Homo sapiens: one gene and its partners. The protein of the gene in region 1 purifies or fractionates together with the protein of each later gene. This does not show direct contact. Each region holds a gene or a part of one and is shown on either strand. Other genes may lie near its edges.

What was found. Proteins that work in one complex are often made in the same cells at the same time.
Region 2: the proteins of LYRM4 (region 1) and STARD7 purify together in Homo sapiens (co-immunoprecipitation; one large-scale study listed by IntAct). This does not show direct contact.
Region 3: the proteins of LYRM4 (region 1) and FXN purify together in Homo sapiens (affinity purification with mass spectrometry; one large-scale study listed by BioGRID and IntAct). This does not show direct contact.
Region 4: the proteins of LYRM4 (region 1) and EPS8 purify together in Homo sapiens (affinity purification with mass spectrometry; one large-scale study listed by BioGRID and IntAct). This does not show direct contact.

Annotation. Positions count from the first base shown.
Region 1 is NC_000006.12:5,219,451-5,222,950, forward strand, and holds part of LYRM4 (LYR motif-containing protein 4), read right to left. Parts: intron 1-3,500.
Region 2 is NC_000002.12:96,202,328-96,205,827, reverse strand, and holds part of STARD7 (stAR-related lipid transfer protein 7, mitochondrial isoform 1 precursor), read left to right. Parts: intron 1-3,500. UniProt on the Homo sapiens protein: May play a protective role in mucosal tissues by preventing exaggerated allergic responses.
Region 3 is NC_000009.12:69,042,252-69,045,751, reverse strand, and holds part of FXN (frataxin, mitochondrial isoform 1 preproprotein), read right to left. Parts: intron 1-3,500.
Region 4 is NC_000012.12:15,670,889-15,674,388, reverse strand, and holds part of EPS8 (epidermal growth factor receptor kinase substrate 8), read left to right. Parts: intron 1-3,465; coding exon 3,466-3,500. UniProt on the Homo sapiens protein: Signaling adapter that controls various cellular protrusions by regulating actin cytoskeleton dynamics and architecture. Depending on its association with other signal transducers, can regulate different processes.

The sequences.
Region 1 (3,500 bases):
CTCTTTCCTGCTCTTTCTGCCTCACTTAAAGCACCCAGTGTTATTCTTCGCCCTAAGGGAAAATATTTCACTGGCTCAGAACCACAAAACTACTACTGCATGAAGAGTTTCTTCCTTAGTTGTAAGAATTCTTATTTCGAATGATCACAGCTTTGTGAAAGTCATCAAAAATCTGAGTGAATCTTCAAATTTGGTGGGAGGGGGCTAATCACCAGTTATTTCAATCCTGGCCCTGCCCTGGTTTTTATCATTTGCTTTTTTTTTTTTCTTTTTTCTTTGCTTTTCTTTTTTGCAGATTCTGGCTATCAGCCTCTTGACCATACCACTGAGCAAGAATATTTCAAAGAAAAATTTGCAGAAGTTGCTGTGAAAATGGCAGCTAGGTGCTACACAATGCTGTGCATTAGGATGATCCTAATGAGTCAGACGCTGTCTGAAATACGGCATGAAAAACTAACGCAGAAAGGGCAACACAACCAAATACAAAGCAGCAGCCCCACAGCCACAGAAACAGTGAGGTGATGATGCTCGCACACACACTGCCCTTTCCACTCTCCTGAAGCTTGGCAGTTTCTTGGTGCTTCTTTGCACAGGAGACTCCCATTTGGCTTTCCTTCTCCACCCCAGCCTTTGCTCTTCATTCTGTCATTAGATCTCAAGTGCCCACAGGTTCTTTTTACCATTGCAAGGATTATACTCTTTTCTGAGATTCTTCCACTCAAAACTCCAATTTCCCTGTTGCACAGCAGGCAGTAACGAAAGCTCTTCAGTGCTTGAGGTTCTGCTTTACTCTGTCCCCTCCCAGAAACACCAAATGCAGCCATAATCACAGCCTCTGAGCACTTGGAGGCTCATATCAGCTTTAGCATCCAATGTGTGATGTGGAAACCACCTAATGTAATGCCTTTCATTTCTGTCATCTTCATCAGCATCTCAAGTGCTGGTTTCTCTGTGTACCTATCCTATAAACACATCTGTGCCTTTTCTTGGTCCTCTGTAACCTGAACTCAAGTATCCTAGGAACAATAAAAGCTGAATCCTTTCTACTGGCCTCTGTGGGGCAAACTCATCTACCTCCAATGACTTGGAAGGACACATCCTCCACCTACTTGCCTTAACTGAAATGTGCAAGAGGAAGCTGCTAAATTCTAGCATGTCCCCATATTCCACAGGGCCCAGAGGAGGGTGCTGGTGTATTCCGGGAGCCTGCTGCTGCTTTCAGATCACTGATTCACCCTTATGCATCTTTGAGGTCATGCCATCTGACAATACTGTGTTGCATGCCTCCATGATACTGTTACTTGTTAATTTCTGGAGGTCAAGTCTTCATATTCAAGTCTTAATGTCTAAAGAGCACTCATTGCAATACACAGACCTCCAGTTTTAGGTTTCTTTTTTCAGAGACAGGGTTTCACTGTCACCCAGGCTGAAGTGCAATGGCCCTATTATAGCTCTCTGTAGCCTCAAACTCCTGGGCTCAAACGATCCTTCCGCCTCACCCTCCCAAGTAGCTGGGAATACAGCAGCATGCCACCATGACCTGCTAATTTTCATTTTGTAGAGAGAGGGTGTCACTATGCTGCCCAGGCTGGTCTCAAACTCCTGACTTCCAGTGATCCTCTTGCCTTGGCCTCTCAAAGTGCTGGGATTACAGGTGTGAGCCACTATATCTGGCCTAGCTACTCCTTCCCAAGCTCCTTTGTGGGCTCATCTCATTCTGCTGCCCCTTACATGCTGTATTCTCTAGGGCACATATGTGAACCATTTTTCTTATTCATAAGATCTCTGCCAGTAATTGCATCTGTCAAAGGTTTCACCTGCCATATAGATGCCATTGGCTACCAATATTTCTCTAGTCCAGACCTTCCTTCTGAGGTCCAAATCCATATACCCAATTGCCTTTTGCACTTGTCAACTAAAATATAGACTCTTCCAGTGAATACATTCAAAACCGAAGTGCCTGGCTGGGTGCGGTGGCTCATGCCTGTAATCTCAGCACTCTGGGAGGCCAAGGCGGGCGGATCACGAGGTCAGGAGTTTGAGACCAGCCTGGTCAACATGGTGAAACCCTGTCTCTACTAAAAATACAAAAATTAGCTGGGTGCGGTGGCACATGTCTGTAATCCCAGCTACCTGGGAGGCTGAGACAGGAGAACTGCTTGAACCCGGAGGCGGAAGTTGCAGTGAGCCAAGATCGCGCCACTGCACTCCAGCCTGGGCTACAGGGCAAGACAATGTCTCAAGAACAAACAAACAAACAAACAAAAACCTGAAGTGCTCATGATGACCAATACTTCCTTCCTCAGGTAGGAGAATCTTCATGCAGTCAACTGCCCAAGTCAAATACTTAGAGACTCATCCTAAATTCTTTCCTTTCCCAGAACTCCCTATATGCAACCAATCACAAATCTTCCAATCGTAACTTTCCACATCCCTTCTGAATCACCTCTACTTCTCCAACTCCTCAGCCCCAATCTTGGTTCAGGCTCTTCTCTCTCGAAGTTATTTAACATCCTTGGGGTTATGGTGTGTGTATGTGTGTAGTGTATAATCAAATGGATCACGATGCCTATGGAGAGGAAGCTCAAGGATCATTTGAAGGTCACACGGACTCTGGGTATATAACAGAGTGAAGAAGAGCAGAAAGTTTCTTTCTGATAATGTGAGCTCCTGGTACAATGTAAGCCCCACATAGCAGGAACTTTAATCTTTCTGGCTCACCACTGTATGTGTCTGGTACAGAGAAGATATTCAATACATGTTTAATGAATAAATGAGCTTATCAAAATATCATAGGCAATATCAAAAAGACCTTCAAGAAAAGTACCAATAACCAATAATGAAAACAAAACAATGAAAAAAGGGTTTGCAGCAAAAAGATTCAAACAACTTTTAGAAGGCAATGATTACAAAATTCAAAATTACAATTTATTCAAGAAATACATACTAAATGCCTACTATATAAGCATTATGCCAGGAGCTGGGAATACAGTGGAGAATAACTAGGGTACTGGTCTCAGGTTCGGTGGGTGACAAGATCTGTAGATAAAGAGATGAAATAAGAAACAGAAGCCATTCCAAGTTAACACAAAGGGCCCAAGGGGACTGGTTTGAGGTAATGGAGTGGTCCTTCTCTTGAATGGGGCGGTGTTTTCACATGCCCTTAGGTTTGTCAAATCATTGAACTGTACCCTTAAAATGGATGCACTTGATTGTATGTAAATTATTCCTCAGTAAGATGACTATTAAAGTAAATTAAAAAAAAGTATAGAAGTTATATTACATTTGCCCACTTTTAAGAAAAGCAAAACAAGAAAAAAAAAAAAAGAAAGATTAGAATGCTAGAGAATATGTACATGGCTGACAGAAGCAATAACACTGAATTAAAACAAGACAAACTAGAAATTCAAATCTAAAGCATGGAAAAATTAAATACGTTGGTGAGAAATATGTAAGAAAAAAATTAACCTTCAGAATAGGGCAAAGGTGTATAACCTATG
Region 2 (3,500 bases), on another chromosome or scaffold:
GTTAATGTGATAGGAAGGCAAATATGCTATTCAACAACTACATCTTGGTTGCACAGTGGTTCCTTAGGTCTTTGTTTTGATAGCTTGTCATGTTTATATTTTATTAAAATATTCTGGGTACAGATTAACTTATTTGCTTTGTGTTTAAGTATTCTATTTGCTTGAAAGTAGGCACTGCTGAGGTTGTCATAGCTAGCTTAGAACATCTTGGATTTCGTTTGTTCTAGTGAGATGATTTTTGGGTAGCTTCCATAATGGAGCACAGTTGGAGTGTGTCTCAAGTGCATTTCTTTCATTGTTAATGGAAAAAGAGCATGATTGTCACATGGCCCCTAAATCACAGCCTTTGGCTCATCTGTGCTGATTCTGTACCAACTTGTCCTGGCACAAACTAATTCTAACATAGCTGTTTTGGTTAAGCGGGTGGAATGTGCAGGGTGTCTTTTTGAATGTGTGCCTTAAAGTGGCATGTGTTTTCCTTATGTTATTTGAGTCCTATTCAGAATGACAAAGCATAACTTGTCTTCTCGTCTTTTGTGCTTAAGAACATCTTACCAAATAGCGTCTTATTAATCAAGCAACAGCAAGAAAATTTGAGAAGTGATTTTGACTGGCTGCTGTGGCCAGATGTAGAAATCAGATCTTTTAATACTTGCTCTAGTACCCAGTTGTCTTAAATTAAACAACGAAAATATCTTGGGATTGCTGTTTTTGGTGCTAGCTGGCATTCTGTGATTCCAGGGCAAATCTAATGGAAAAATACAGTAGTCATGTTTTTGATTGCTTTGGAACAGTTAAAAAGAAAAGTTACAGGAACAAAGAGAGGAAGGATGTTAAGAAATGAAAGGCTAGGGGAAAATGTTCCATTAACCTCCTCATAGTTTTTTAAAAGTTACAGTTCATTGCTCCAGAAATTTGAGTAAATAAGTGCCATTAAAGTTGCATAAAGAAAATTGGCCATTTTCTCTTTTCTGTCTTTCAGGGCATTCGGGATATGTTAAACTTCAGTGTGTTATTGACTAGATAAATGATCCGCATAAAGTCCTTTTGCCTTAAAGGAACTTTTTTTTTTTTTTTTGGCCATTGTCACTTCAGGGTATCTTACTGGTAAACCCTTAAACCCCTTGTTAGATCTTCAGAGCTACATAAAATTAGATCTCAATTTTTTGAGGTTGTCTTCATTATTTTACCATTAACTAGTTGCCCTAGAACTGCAATGAGCTAATTGATGTCCTGTCCTGTCCTGTCCTCCCCTTCCCTCCCGCCCCCTTCCGGGACAGAGTCTCACCCTGTCGCCCAGGCTGGAGTGCATTGGCATGATCTCGGCTCACTGCAACCTCCGCCTCCCAGGTTCAAGCGATTCTCCTGCCTCAGCCTCCACTGAGTAGCTGGATTACAGGTGCTTGCCACCACACCCGGCTAATTTTTTGTATCCTTAGTAGAGATGGGGTTTCACCATGTTGGACAGGCTGGTCTCCAGCTCTTGACCTCGTGATCCGCCTGTCTCGGCCTCCCAAAGAGTTGGGATTACAGGCATGAGACATCACGCCCAGACTCTTTTTTTTCTTAAGACATAATCTCACTCTGTCGCCCAGGCTGGAGTGCAGTGGTGTGATCTCACCTCACCGCAGCCTCCGCCTCCCTGGTTCCAGCTATTCTCGTGCCTCAGCCTTGCCAGTGGCTGGGTCTACAGCGGGGGTGCCACCACGCCTGTTTAATTTTTGTATTTTTAGTGGAGACGGGGATTCACCATGTTGGCCAGGCTGGTCTCGAACTCCTGCTCCTGACCTCAAACAGTCCTCACGCCTTGGCCTTCCAAAGTGCTGAGAGCCAGGCGCCTGGCTCTATGTCTTTTTTTGGGGGGTATGGAGTCTTGTTCTGTTGCCTAGGCTGGAGTGCAGCGGTGTGATCTGGGCTTACTGAAGCATCCACCTCCTGGTTTCAAGCAGTTCTCCTGCCTCAGCCTCTCAAGTAGCTGGGACTACAGGCATGCCCCACCACGCCCACCTAATTTTGTGTGTTTATTTTTAGAAGAGAAGGTTTCACTGTGTTGGCCAGGCTGATCTCCAACTCCTGATCTCAAGTGATCCGCCTGCCTTGGCCTCCCAAAGTGCTGGGATTACAGGCATAAGCCACTGCGCCTGACTCCTATGTCTTTTATTTCTAGGTGTGTCCCGTATCAGTAGAACCTGACTTTGACAATAACTTGGAATTTGAAGAGGAGGAGAATTATGTGAAGTGAGGCTGTTGTCTGACTGAAATTCCTAATTGTAGGGATGGTTTCATTTAAGTAATTTTGGAGCCTTACACCAAGCTCCATGCTGAGGGCAGGACCCCTAGATGAACCAAATGTTGTTTCACTTACTTTGTTTTCATGGTTTGTTTGCTTTCAGTTTCTATAGCTTTCGGTCCAGCCTTTTTCAGATATTGAAATGATTTTCGTTTTGGAGAAAGAAAGGCATGGTCTCTCTTTTCTTGATCCTTTTTCTAATCTGCTGATTTTACTATTTTGGGAATAATCTCTTTTGTCCTTCTGTCCTCTCTTAAGTCTCTTAAGATGTGAAGGTTTAGCCACCCATCCCATCCAAACAAGATTGGGCACAGCAGCCTAAAGAGATGTGTCATGAGAGGTTTTCCTTTTCTCCACATATATGTTAGTGAATGACTTTGTGCTCCTGTATGTTAATTGGGTCTTGTCATGTTAGCATTTAGAAGTTCAGACCCTTCAGGGATTCCTAAACCTTGGGAAAAAATAACTTGATCATTTACATTTTCGTGAAGCAGTCTTGCTCTATCATTCATACTGTGTCTCCACAAGACATTTCCGTCCCTTTTCATAATTTTAGTCAAAGCCACCTAGTAACCTTTAATTATATAGGAGAGCTTGATTAAGCAGTGGGTCAGATGCTCTGAACCACCTTGATTCTTAGAAGGTCATGAAAAAATGTTGCCTATAGTTAATAATTTTCTTAAAACTTTATTAACTATGTAATTATTTTATGAGCCTCTGATGTTTTAGTACGACATTCCACCAGTGGAAACATGCTCCCCTTTATTATGTGGCAAGAATGATAATTCGGGCCAGGTGTTGTGGCATGTGCCTGTACTTGGGAGGCTGGAGGATCACTTGAGCCCAGGAATTTGAGGCCAGCTTGGGCAATGAAGAAAAAAATTTTTTTTAAAGAATGACACTCAAGAGTTGTGCTTAGTTATTGTTGAAGGATGCTTTATAGACCTCAAAAATGCTGTAATCGATGCCCTATGGTGCCTGATTGTTCTCTGAGCAAATCTAGCTATGGTTTTGCTTTTGCTCTTCTTCTGCAACATCTAAATGCCTATCCTAAGGTTCCTTCTCTGTTTCTCTATGGTTTTGCAGCTGGTCAGGGTTCTTGGTTGTAACAAAGAAACTGGTCTTGGTTAATTTAAGCCAAAAAGGAATTAATCAAAACGGTATTAGGTCACTCAGTATTGACAAGGCCAGGGTACAGGTTGACCAAGAC
Region 3 (3,500 bases), on another chromosome or scaffold:
TGTACCCCTCACCCAAGCTAGTTTCGGAGTAAATTCACTTTTTTTGGTACCAGGCCTTGCTCTTGTTAATTGGACTCTGCATCCGGTGAACAACTAACCTGCATTTTGGTTAAATAATCATGCTGAAGTTTTTTTTTTTGGTTTTTGTTTTTTGTTTTTGAGATGAAGTCTCGCTCTGTCGCCCAGGCTGGAGTGCAGTGGCACGATCTCGGCTCACTGCAACCCCCGCCTCCCGGGTTCGAGTGATTCTCGTGCCTCAGCCTCCCGCGTAGCTGGGATTACAGGCACCCGCCACCGCACCCGATTTTTTGTATTTTTAGTAGAGACGGGGTTTCACCATGTTGGCCAGGCTGGTCTTGAACTCCTGGCCTCAAGTGATCTGCCCTCCTCAGCTTCCCAAAATGCTGGATGTGAGCCACCGCACCCAGCCCTATATTAAAGTATTTTAGGAATATTTCTTAGGATTTTTTTTTTTTTACCTTCTTTTAGTGCATTACAGTGATTCTCCCTGTGTCTCTCTAAGCCCGTGTTTTCCAATAGGCTAGCCAACAAGCCACACGTAGCTATTTACATTTAAATTTAATGAGATAAAATATAAAGTCAGCTCCTCAACTGCACCACCAGTTTCGAGAATCCTGTGGCCACATGTGGCTAGTGGTGCAGACACAGCATTTCCATCACATCAGGAAGTTCTACTGGGCAGGGCTGCTGCAGGCTGTTCAGGTTACAGGGTGGTTAGCAGGAGGCTGGGAGGCATCCACAATGCTCTTAAAAGGTCACTAAGAGAGGCAACAGGAAATAGCAAGAGGCAGAATCCTGCTGAAGTCCAGAAGATTTGGCTCTGACTGCTGACTGCTGTCTGACAGATCTTATTATCATGATCTGCAGGACAGAATGTGACCTGTTGATTTTTTTTAGTCCCTAACTGCTGGACATCCAGGTGACAGGGTCTGAGTTGATTACCACCAGCTCTGCTGACCAGCTGGGGAGATGAAGGAAATAATCAGACAAGAGCCACTGGGGCACAAGAGTGGTGCAGCTGGAGTAGGGAGATGCAGGGGAGGTGACAGGGGAGGTGATGGAGCGAGGAGGGGGCGCCCTGGGTCTTGCCAAGGACCTCAGCTGGACGTCATCCTGGGAAGGCACCGAAGGGCTTTAAGAGATTGGTGATAAGGTTTACATTCTCCAAAGGTCACTGGTTGCCATGGAGAGAAGAGGCGAGAGACTGTTAGTTACTGCTCTTGAGCCAGCAGTGCCCTTAGCAAACTCAGAAAAGAGAAGGCAGAAGGCACAGGGCTGGGAAGTAAGTGGAGGAGGAAACGGGCTGGGGGACAGTGGATGGGGAGGGTGGGGCAGAGTGCAGACCTTAGAAACACATGTCTCTGAAGAAGTGAGAGGGCAGCCATGATAACCACTGTTAGAGCTATCGCACATTCTACAGTGTTCTCCATCTGCTTGACACTGCTCTCAGCCTTTATGTAAATGGACTCAGTCTTCATTACAATCCTGTGAGGGACGTACTCTTATTACAGTCCTTATTCTTGGTAGTTATGTGCTACAAAGTTGCCACAAACACTCAACGAGCAAATTATTTATAGGAGAAATACAAGGCTAGGTACCCTGTAAGCTGCTGGTCACAACATTGTTACCAATCGATCAATATATAACCTTATTTCTGTTTAAAGACACCTTATGTAATATATATAGTTGATTCATTAACACTGATCTTGGCTGGGCATGGTAGCTCACACCTGTAATCCCCGCACTTTGGGAGGCCAAGGTGGGAGGATTACTTGAGCTCAAGAGTTTGAGACCAACCTGGGCAACATAGAGAGACCTCATTTCAACTTGAAAAATAAAAAACATGAGGCCGGGCATTGTGGTTCGTGCCTATAATCTCTGCAGTTTGGGAGGCGGAGGCGGGTGGATCACCTGAGGTCAGGAGTTCAAGACTAGCCTGGCCAACATGGTGAAACCCCGCCTCTACTAAAAACACAAAAATTAGCAAGGCGTGATGACATGTGCCTGTAATCTGTGCTACTCAGGAGGCTGAGGCAGAAGAATTGCTTGAATCCGGGAGGTGGAGGTTGCAGTGAGCCAGGATCGCACCATTGCACTCCAGCCTGGGTGATGAGCAAAATTCCACCTAAAAAAATATCAAAAACATTATCTGGGTGTGGTGGGGTGTACCTGTAGTCCCAGCTACTCAGGAGGCCGAGGTGGGAGGATTGCTTGAGCCAGAGAGGTAGAGGCTGCAGTGAGCTATGATTACACCATTGCACTCCAGCAGCCTGGGCAACAGAGGGAGACCCTGTCTCAAACAACAACAACAACAAATTAATTGATCTCAGGACAACAGCACCTTAACTCATGCCTGACAAAGCTTCTCTAACACATGCATTTTCTCTGTAAGGAACATCACAGCCTCCTCGTGCTAAACTTTGCACTACACTTGGAGACAATTTTAACAGAGAAATAACCAAGAAAAAAGCATAAAAATCTGAAAAACATGGCACTAATCAGACTGTGAAAAGGACACAGTTTACACTATGACAGCTGAAATAAGAAGGCAGGGCAGCACTTTGTTGGACCTTGGCTGGGAACATGAGCCTGGAGGAGCTCACATTTTTTTGCCGCTCTGCACACATCTTTGAAACGACCCCAAAAGGCTAGGGGTACTGATTTTGGGGTAACAAATTTTAGCAAGTGAGCAAATTAACAAGTACAGACTCTTAACGAATGAGGATCAACTATAGTTGTGTTTTACAGATGAGGAAACTGACGCACCAAAGGGTAACTTGCCTACACAGATACACAGACATTAAGTGGCAGAGCTGGGATTGAACCCAAGCTGTCTGGCCCCAGAGTCTGTGCACAGTGGAAGGAATTGTTTTCCCAGGAATTAAAGCAGTGCTCAAAACATCCAAGGAAAAGTGTCTGAGAATGTGGGGCTCACCTCAGGGAAGTTTCCATCTCTCCAGGATCCTGGCCCCTCAAACCTTAGTTGTCTTAGTCGCTGATACCTTCACAATAGCTGTTTTTGTTTGTGTGTGTGTGTGTTTAATTTAATAGAGATTTGATGGTTGTTACTGGTGGGAAGGTCAAATGCAGTTACTCCTTCAAAGGCACAAGTAGAAGTCTTTCTTCGGCTGTTTTTAATCATAAAAAAGAACCGTTGCCAAATACTCCTTGCTTTATATTCTACCTGCTTTTGCCAATTTAATATTCCTCGGGCAACTGCTAAACCTTTTGGAACCTCAGTTTACTCCTCTGAAGGAAGGGATCGTGGTACTCACAACAAACCTCACAACCGTGAGCATAAAACAAGAGAACAGAAATACCCCAAGTACAGAGCCTGAGGGTATTCAGGCTCTGAACAAAAGAATGGAGAACTAGGTGAGAGGCAAACTTCCGCCTCTGCCTAAGGGAGGCTCCATTCTGTTCTGCTTGAGGGAGGCAAAGCTTGGAGGTCAAGGTCATAGGATGAGTGTTCTTCCTTT
Region 4 (3,500 bases), on another chromosome or scaffold:
TTGTAAGTATAAAGTAATATGAGTTCTAGCCCATTGTTTTATTTAGAGAGAGGAATACTCAGCAGCTGCTTTTATGTTACTTTTTTCTTGTTAATGGCCAAATCCTTACTCTCTAAGGAACATTTTTGTTTTTAGAGAAAGAGAAAAAAAATTCTAAATATTAGCTGTATCTTTGAATATTAGCCGTTTCAAATGTTATATTATGCATAAACAGCAATGCATGTGAAAGGGAATTAAGTGTAAATACCAACACCTGGATGCTTTTTATACTTGTAGTTCAACTAATTAACAAATTAAATGAAACCTAAATTTAGTATTTCTGATCTGGGAGTTGAATATCAATTTTTGCAATAGTGTATGATAAAATTGTATGTAAATATTTTTCATCGTTGGTTACTGAATTCATGTAATTCTGTCTGTTTGGAGTTGTACATTCTGGACCATGACATAAAAGCTAATAGACAAAATAGTGAAACACAACCAGTGGTTCTATAGCCAAGTAAGTTTCATCCTACCTCTAATTGATTCTGAGCGAGAAAGAGAGGCAGGGGCCAGAATAGGAGGGGAAATAGACTTAGTCTTATGTTAGGAGTTGAGCAGCTTGTACTACTAGAAACCTAAAACCCTACTGCCATGTTTATTCATGAATTTATTATTTAATATACCATTTGACGATATTTACATTCTTAATTTGGAAAGGAAAATGTTCTGCTTGAAGAGATAGTATATAGTAGATGAGTTGCACACTGTTTTATAAAGTTCATTCCAACATGCAGCCAAGGATGAGAACCACTGTTAGCAAAAGTGGTGAATTTCATTAGAGGATTCATCTTGAGTAGTGTTGAGAGATTTTAGTTAGGCTTTTTATACTGTTTTAAGGCTTTGGTGAGATTTCTAGCTTAGGAGCCTAATTACTATTTATACCAGTTCTTGTGAATACATGTGATTCTCATAAAAAAGAAATGTATTATAATTGCCTTTTAGGAAATGTCTTTCAAAATTGCCTATTAAAATGTTAATATTAACCTTTATGGATTGACTTAAAAATCACTGGAACTACTAGTTTATTTATAAGTCCATTTATGGCATTTATACATTTTTAGGATCTTTAAAAGGTAGTTTCTTATACAACTTATTTATTGTACAACATAGAGAAAGCAGCTTAGGAATTCCTAAAGTGGATTCTTAATTTGGAATATTAGAAATGACACCATATCTTCTAGGCACTCAGAGTGATCGGTTAATGTCATACTGTTTAAAATGCTATCAGATAGTTTTTCTTCTCATTTCTGTAAATTATGTTTCTGTGGGATTGGGAAACTATGGGTTAGGAAATCAAGAGGTCAGGGATAAATTCTTAATACTTCATAATGAGAATATCTAAATAGAAACACACAGTATTTCAGATCTTCAACTGTTGTATTTGCCAATAAATTACCTGAAAGACAAAGCATTTGAACATCCAGGAGCTGCCATATCATGACTGGGTGTCATGGCAACCACTGCCATTTCTTTTCTGTCCTAAGGTCAGATCAAAGCAAGCCGAGCCCTCCTGCTCTGAATCTATCGTGGACAGTTGTGTTAGAATATGGTGAACCAGTGACTCTGAAATAGTGATTATTTCTAGATGTGGTTTTGTGAAATATATTCCTGAATTATATATTGTATTACAAGAGTCATAACGGCTGTCACAGGGACAATTATCGATGTGTTAATATCTCACACTGATTAATCCTCAACAACTAATCAGAAAAATCACAGTCGCTCACTTTTTAAAAATATGTAGAATACAGTCATGTAAGTGAAGGTTTATGTTTTGTTATATTGGGAGAGAAAATTTTAGGTGAAACCAGATCTTTCTTTTTGATGACATTATTTTGGTAGGACCAGATGGATCATACTTCCTCAGGTCATCATCCAAACAAAAAAAGAAAGGTAGCACAGAGTGAATTTTGTAGTGCATCTGTTTTTATTAAGTAATTTTAATGCTGCAAAAGCAAAAATGGAGTGTATTGGAATATCAGAGTAATATTGATACAAGGACATGGAGATTTTAATCTAAATTTTAAAAGTAAATATAAATGAAATTCATATGTGTTGTAAAATGAAAATTTATTAAGTTTTCTTAAAATTCTGTGTTAATGTTCTGAGTCTGCATATGTATATATGCACTTTATATTTTTGTACTTGCTCAGCTTTTATGTTCAGCAGAACTTTCCAAACAACTTATCTATTATAGAATATCTATACTAACTAAAAGAAATAGGTTTACATTTACAAAAAAATAGGTTGTTGGGAAAGCTAAGGTATATCTATATGTCAGAATGTTAATGGCTTAAAGGCCTTTAGGTTTGACCTTGTTTAATCCTTTTATTTTACAGTAAGGGTGCTGAGGCCCAGGGTATTAAGTTTCTTGCCCAAATTTAGTTTCCTACTTAGTGACAGAGCCGAAGCTGGAACAATAAATCTTATAATTCCCTCTCAGAGTTATTTTTCATCATAGCATTCTGTTTAGAAGAAATAGGGCAACTCTGAATTTACAAATAAGCAAGTTGCTTGATTAGAAAAGTAACAAATAGTGCTCACTTTGGCAGCACATATACTAAAATTGGAATGATACAGAGATTAGCATGACCCCTGTGCAGAGATGGCACTCAAATTCATGAAGTGTTCCATATTTTAAAAAACAATACAAATTTTAAAAAGAGAGTAACAAATACCAAATATTGCCGACATACATTTTATATTTTAATGTTATTTTTTTGGTTTTGCAGCATTTCAGAAAAGAAAATTAAAGGTTTCTTTTTGCTTTTTAAGTAGTTTGGTGCAATAACTTTCTACCTGACTTTCTTGTTTTTCCTATCAGCTTATATTTATAATTCTAAGTATCACATTTGTGTGTTTTGTAGATGTGTGAAAACTGTTAATATTTAATGGCAAGCCATGTGATTGAATCATGTTTTAAATCTCCTCTAACACTATCCCAATTTGGATATTGCAAAAGGAGATGTTCCTTGTAATGCCTATTATTTTAATAATGTAGTCTAACTCATATAATACAGTATCTATGACAATATTTGCAATTACATTTTGATATCAGTGCAGTAACAGATGAAATTTATAAGCCAGTTGTAATTGACTTGTCAAACAGTAGGTCCCTGACTGATAAATAAAACCTTTAGATGAAATAACTTTTTTTCTTATAATATTTATACTCTTGTTAACCTTTGGAATTCTAAAAATGGATAGTGGATCAAATTGTTCTTGCCTATTATTTAGACTTTCTTGTGGTTTTTAGATTTACTGCGAATAATGAGTGTTTTCAGATACACCACACAATGGCAACTTGTCAGCTACTGTATTTATATGTGAGATAGACTAGTTTTAGAGATAGCCACATGATACCAACATATGAACTTCAGTCTATTAGGGGACAAATCATGGCTTTTTCAATTTCTCTTTCAGAACAAAGGAAGAATTATGCACGGGACAGTGTCAGC